Homo sapiens: one gene and its partner. The protein of the gene in region 1 interacts with the protein of each later gene in a pairwise test. Each region holds a gene or a part of one and is shown on either strand. Other genes may lie near its edges.

Evidence for each region. The genes of interacting proteins can lie anywhere in the genome.
Region 2: the proteins of KIDINS220 (region 1) and MOB4 interact in a two-hybrid assay, tested with the Homo sapiens proteins (one large-scale study listed by BioGRID and IntAct).

What each region holds. Positions count from the first base shown.
Region 1 is NC_000002.12:8,781,966-8,785,777, reverse strand, and holds part of KIDINS220 (kinase D-interacting substrate of 220 kDa), read left to right. Parts: coding exon 1-37; intron 38-3,812. UniProt on the Homo sapiens protein: Promotes a prolonged MAP-kinase signaling by neurotrophins through activation of a Rap1-dependent mechanism. Provides a docking site for the CRKL-C3G complex, resulting in Rap1-dependent sustained ERK activation.
Region 2 is NC_000002.12:197,533,066-197,536,565, reverse strand, and holds part of MOB4 (MOB-like protein phocein), read right to left. Parts: intron 1,037-3,500; coding exon 936-1,036; intron 1-935. Other genes in the region: HSPE1-MOB4 protein, read right to left, coding at 936-1,036.

The DNA.
Region 1 (3,812 bases):
CAAACTGCACAAATTGAAAAGTGAAGGATTCATGAAAGTAAGCACTCATTGGTTATTAGAAAAAATTGTAATGCGAATATGTTGCCACTGCCATGCTCATTTGGGCTTTAGGAAGTACACTCTCTAAATGTTAAAGTGTTGCATTTATTTTAGTTTAATTTGTTCATTCATTCATTCGTTCATTCAAGACTATAATTTAAGGTAGTTTTAAGTTCACGGTAAAATTTAGAGGGAAGTGCAAAGATATCCCATATACCCACTTCCCCCACACATACACAGCCTCCCCAATTGGCACGATTACCCACCAGAGCAGTACATTTGTTACAATTGATGAACTTAGGCTGACACATCATAATCACCCAGCATCCATAGTTTACAGTAGGGTTCACTCTTGGTGTGGTACATTCTGTGGGCTTGGACAAATGTATAACATGTATCCACCATTATAGTCTTATACAGAGTAGATTTATTGCCCTCAAAATCTTCTGTGCTTCACCTCTTCACACCTGTTCACCCCTCCCTCCACCCTCCTCCCTAACCCCTGGCTACCATTTCTTTTTACTATCGCCATAGTTTTGCCCTTTCCAGAATGTCATATAGTTGAATCATACATGTGTAGTCTTTTCAGATTGGCTTCTTTCACGTAGTCATATGCATTTAAGTGCCCTTCATGTCTTTTCATGACCTGCTAGCTCATTTCTTTTTAGCATGGCTAATGTGCCATTGTCTGGATATATCACAGTTCATTTATACATTTATCTACTGAAGGACATCTTTATTGCTTCCAAGTTTTGGCAAGTATGAATAAAGCTGCTATAAACTTTTGTGGACAGGCTTTTGTGTGAACATAAAGGATTTGAAAACTCCTTTGGGTAAATACCAAGGAGTGTGATTGCTAGATTGTATGATGTTTCGTTTTGTTAGAAACAACCAGACTGTTCTGAGGTGGCTATTTTGCATTCCCACCAGAAATGAATGAGGCTCCTGTTGCTCCACATCACATCCTCACCAGCATTTGGTATTATTGGTGTTCTGGATTTTGGCCATTCTGTTAGGTGTGCAGTGGTATCTTATTGTTTGAATTTGCATTTCCCTGATTACACATGTTGTGGAGCATATTTTCATGTGCTTATTTGCTATCTGTATGTCTTCTTTGGTGAATTGGCTGTGAAGGTCTTGGCTTATTTTTCAGTCAGGTTGTTCATTTTCTTATTGTTGAGTTTTAAGAGTTCTTTGTGTATTTTGGCTAATGGTCCTTTATCAGATAAGCTTTTTGCAAATATTTTGCTCCATTCTTTTGGTTGCTTTTCATTCTCTTGACAGTGTCTTTTGCAGAGCAGACATTTTTGATGAAGTCTAGCTTACTAATTCTTTCTTTCATGGATCTTGCTTTTAGTGTCCTATCTAAAAAGTTAACACCAAACCTACGGTCACCTAGATTTTATCCTCTGTCATTTTCTAGGTGTTTTATACTTTTGCATTTAGGTCTGTGAGCTATTTTGAGTTAATTTTTGTGAAGTGTGAATGTGTCTAGATTCTTTTCTTGCTTGCTTTCTTGCTTCCTTGCTTCTTTTCTTTTTTTTTTTTTGTTTCCAGTTGTTCCAGCACCATTTGTTAAAAACGCTATTTCTTGCATTGTATTGCCTTTGCCGCTTGTCAAAGATCAATTGACTATATTTGTGTAGGTCTGTTTCTGGGCTCTTTCTCTTTGTCTGTTCGTTTGCGCATACCACACTGTTTGATTACTCTAGCTCTATTTTCTTGAAGTTGGGTAGTGTCAGTCCTCCTATTTTGTTCTCCTCCTTCAATACTGTGTTGGCTATTCTGGGTCTTTTTCTCCTCATATGAACTTTTGATTCACCTTGAATAACTTGCTGGGATTTTCATTGAGATTGCGTTAAATCTTTAGGTCAAGTATTGAGTCTTCCTACCCATGAACATGGAATATCTCCTCATTTATTTAGTTCTTCCTTGATTTCTTTCAAGAGTTTTGTGGTTTTTCTCATATAGATCTTATACATATTTTGTTAGATTTATACCTATTTCGTTTTTTGCAGTGTTAATATATATAGTAATTGTGTTCTTAATTTCATGTTTGACGCTGATATATAGGAAAGTGATCAACTTTTGTATTAATCTGAAATCTTGCTATAATTGTTTGTTAGTCCCAGGAGTTTTTTTTCATTGTGGTTCTTTCGGTTTTTCTACATAGAGAGTCAAGTCATCTGTGAACTAAGACAGTTTTCTTTCTTTCTTCCCAGTCTTCATACCTTTTATTTCCTTTTTGTTTGTTTGTTTTATTGCATTAGTTAGGACTTGCAGTACTATGTTGAAAAGGAGTGGTAAGAAAAGGGACAATCTTGCCTCGTTCCTGATCTTAGTAGATGTTTTCATGTTCTCACCATTAAGTATGATGTTAACTACAGATACTCTTTATCAAGTTGAAGAAGTTCCTCTCTATTTCTAGTTTACTGAGAGTTTCTACCATAAATGGTGTTGGATTTTGTCAAATGCTTTTGCTTTATCTAATTATGCAATCATGTGATCTTTCTTCTTTAGCCTGTTTCTTTTTTTTTTTTTGAGACGGAGTTTTACTCTTGTTGCCCAGGCTGGAGTGCAGTGGTGCCATCTCAGCTCACTACAACCTCCACCTTACGGGTTCAAGTGATTCTCCTGCCTCAGCCTCCCAAGTAGGTGAGATTACAGGCATGCAACAGCATGCCCAGCTAATTTTGTATTTTTAGTAGAGACGGAGTTTCACCGTGTTGATCAGGCTGGTCTTGAACTCCTGACCTCAGGTGATCCACCCTCCCTCCTCGGCCTCCCAAAGTGCTGGGATTACAGGCATGAGCCATTGTGCCCAGCCTAGTCTGTTGAAGTGATGGATTACATTAATTGATTTTTGAATGTGGAACCGGCCCTACCTACCTGGCATAAATCTCACTTGATTGTGGTGTATAATTCTTTTTATACATTTTGCATATGATTTTCTAATATTTTGTTGAGGTTTTTTGCATCTATGCTCATGAGATATTTATTGGTTTGTAGTTTGCTTTTCTTGTCAAGACTTCGTCTGCTTTGGGTATTAGGGTGATGCTGACTTCATAGCATGAGTTAGGAAGCATTCCCTTTGCTTCTGTCTTCTGAAAGATCCTATGTAGAGTTGGTATAATTTCTTCTGTAAGTGCTTGGTAGACTTCATTAGTGAACCCTCTGGGCCTGGTGCTTTCTGTTTTGAAAAATTATTATTGATGCAATTTCTTCAATAGATATAGGCCTGTTCTTGTGAATTTTGGCAAATTATGTCTTTGAAAGAACTGGTCTGTTTATCTAAGTTATCAAATTTGTGGGCATAGAGTTGTTTGTAGTATCCCTTTATTATCCTATTTTTGTCCATGAGGTAGGTCTAAAGTGGTAGCCTCTCTTTTATTTGTTGTTTTTCTGAATTTGTGTTTCCTCTTCTTTCATCTTAGTTAGTCCAAGGCTTATTGATTGTGTTTATCTTTTGAACTAACTAGCTTTTGGTTTCATTGTTTTATTTCTGTTTTAGTTTTTATTATTTCTTTTCTTCTGATTACTTTGGATTTAATTTGCTCTTTTTCTAGTTTCCTGAGGTGGAAGCTTAGATTATTAATTTTATTTTATTTTTATTTATTTATTTTTTGAGACAGAGTCTCACTCTGTTGCCCAGGCTGTAGTGCAGTGGTGCGATCCCAGCTTGCTGCAATCTCTGCCTCCTGGGCTCAAGGGATCCTCCCACCTCAGCCTGCCGAGTAGCTGGGACCACAGGCTACACGCCACCACACCTGGCT
Region 2 (3,500 bases), about 190 Mb from region 1:
GGGAAACGGAAATACTATATTAGCGGTTAAGAGATACAATTAAGGAAAATCATGAAATAAGAATAAAACCCAGGCTGGCATGGTGGTAATCCCAGCACTGTGGGAGGCCAAGGTGGGTGGATTGCTTAAGCCCCGGAGTTTGAGACCAGCCTAGGCAACATGGTGAAACCTTGTCTCTACAAAAAATACAAAAAACTAGCCAGGCTTAGAGGCATGCACTAGTAGTCCCAGCTACTCAGGAGGCTGAGGTGGGAGGATTGCTTCAGCATGGGAGACAGAGGCTGCAATGCGCCAAGATTGCACCACTGCATTCCAGCCTAGGCAACAGATCAAGACCCTGTTTCAAAAAAAAGGCGGGGATAATAAGGCCCAAATGAATAAATGTAGAAAGGGTGGCTCAATACTTTGGGAGGACAAGGTAGGAAAATTGCTTGAATCCAGGAGTTTGAGACTAGCCTGGGCAACACAATCAGATCCTGTCTCTACAAAAAATTAAAAAATTAGTGAGGCATGCTGGCACACACCTGTAGTCCCAGCTACTCTGGAAGCTGAAGTGGGAGGATCACTTGAGCCTAAGAGGTAGAGGCACAGTAAGCAGTGATTACACCACTGCACTCCAACGTGGGCAAGAGAGTGAGACCCCATCTCAAAAAAAAAAAAAAAAAAGAAAAGAAAAGAAGAGAGGTGCAGAGGCAGGTCCAAATTATCAACTCTGAAATAAACCACCTTTCAAAATGAGTGACTCTGCAGCATAATTTGACCTGGAAACAACCAGTGAAGAAAGCTGAGAACCTTGTGACACTGAAAATGCCAAAGCTTTAAAATTTGGCTTCTTAGTCTGCAGTTACATAGTAAATTTTACAATTCATAATTATCATTAATATGAAAGCTAGTTTTGTGAGAGGTACTATTAGTATTTTGATGTAAGGTCCTACCTTAAATGTTCATACTTCCACACACCTTCATCTTGGCCTTCAGGTGGTTCAAGAATTTTGTCAATATTGGAGCAATCTGCTCTTATGTTCTGTTGAATATACTAAAAACAAAGAAGTTCTTATGGTTAATTAAATTATATCACCTGGTAAATCTTATGTTAAGTACATATAATTTGTTAATACATAACTGCTCTTGTGGTTCAACTTGGGTTATACACTAAATAGGAAACCAAGTATAGAATCATAATCAGTAACTAAGAAAAAAAGTAGGTTACCCTTACTTATTTATCCTTCAATTCAACTTCATTTGGATAGAATCTACTACATAAATGCAGATATTGTATTTGTCAGGACTGGAACTTGGATCAAAATTGCAAACCATAATTTCTTTTTTTTTTTTTTTTTTTTGAAACAGGGTCTCACTGCATCACCCAGGCTGGAGTACAGTGGCACAATCTCAGATCACTGCAATATCCACCTCCTGGGCTCAAGCAATCCTCCCACCTCAGCCTCCTGAGGAGCTGGGACTACAGGCACACGCCATCACGCCGGGCTAACTTTTCCATATTTTGTAGATACAGGATTTCACCATAGGCAATGTAAATATAACTATGGTACATATTGTGATTTGGTTTATATGAAGTGTCTAGAGTAAGAAAATCTATTGAGACAGGAAATAGATTTGTACTGGTGTAGGGCTTGAGGGCAGAGAGGAAGGCAGAAGAGACTGAAGATGGCTGCTAATGAGGGTGAGGTTTCCTTTCAGGAAGGATAAATATGTTCTAAAAGGCCGGGCGTCGGGGCTCATGCCTGTAATCCCAGCACTTTGGGAGGCCGAGGTGGGCAGATCACAAGGTCAGAAAATCGAGACCATCCTGGCTAATATAGTGAAACCCAATCTCTACTAAAAATACAAAAAAATTAGCCAGGCGTGGTGGCACACACCTGTAGTCCCAGCTACTCTGGAGGCTGAGGCAAGAGAATCGCTTGGACCCGGGAGGCGGAGGTTGCAGTGAACCAAGATCGTGCCACTGCACTCCAGCCTGGGCAACACAGTGAGACTCCATCTCAAAAACAAAACAACAACAAAAAAGCTTTAAAATTAGACTGTAGTGATGGCTGTGCAACCCTGTGAATATAATCACTCTAACTGTATAGGGATTTGTATGGTATGTTCATTAGATCCAATAAAAGTTGTTTTAAATGACTAACAGAAAAAACTAAGTTTAAAAAAAAAGGCAAGGGAGGGTCACTTTCAATTTTTAAAATGTAATAACATAAAAATTTAAATTTCAGATCTCTGTAATGCTTTATGCAATCTTTTTGATATTCTGAAGTCTAAATACGTTAGAACAGATTAAAAGGGTGGTTACAAAAACTTACTAACTATAAGGCCTTCTTGAGCCAATCAATTTTGCCTACTTCAGACAATCTTTCTTGAATATCACTTGCTTACTCAAAAACTTTTTTTTCCAAACAAAAGGTCTCACATATTTAGTACTGAACCAGCCTACTGCAGAGCATAGAAACCAAAAGAAAAACCATTGTTCCAATACAGCATGTACAACTGTCCAGATGATGGTGACATTTTCAGCTTGATATGGTGACATGATAGTGACCTTGATGCAATATTAAGTATGTGTGCCATCTCATGTAAAATTCCTTCTAGACCCAGCTTGGTTCTTTTCCAATGTCTCCTCTTAGAGTTGTACCTGATTTTATTACTCAGTTTTCATCTGAATCCACTGGGGAATGGGACGATTTTGCTTTTGTTTCTTGGCCAGGAATCACTTGATTCTAAAAGTCTTAAAGTCTTGTGGGAAGGCATGGCAAAGAACTGAGTCACACGCACACACCATGATGACAGGGAAAGGGATCAAATACTTTTTTTTTTTTTTTTTTTTTTTTGAGGAGTTTTGCTCCTGTCGCCCAGGCTGGAGTGCAATGGCTCAGTCTTGGCTCACTGCAACCTCCGCCTGCCGGGTTCAAGCGATTCTCCTGCCTCAGCCTCCCGAGTAGCTGGGAATACAAGCACCTGCCATCACGCCCGGCTAATTTTTGTATTTTTTGTAGAGACAGGGTTTCGCCATGTTAGTAAGGCTGGTCTCAAACTCCTGACCTCAGCTGATCCACCCGCCTCGGCCTCCCGAAGTGCTGGGATTACAGGCATGAGCCACCGTACCCAGCCTCAAACACTTTTTAATGACTCTTTAATTACTATTGAAACCACTCTCCCTGATTTTTTTTATCTCATCCTAATGTTTCAAAGTTTTGATTCTCTCTCTCCTTGAGGAGATACAGCTAAATTGTATACCTTCTCCAAAGGCCACCTCAAATTCCACATCACAATTCTGTCCAAATCTCTCGTTCCCCCAACACACTCAAGCACTCCCTGATTATTCGAATCCTCACAGAACTCCATCCAATTTCCTGCCACATTTGTAATTTGTATATATTAGCAATCTGTCTATTCATTTTTGTCTTTCCTGTTCCCACTACACCTTCTATGGATAGAAATTTTTTTTTGTTTTTGAGATAGAGTCTCACTCTGTCGCCCAGGCTGGA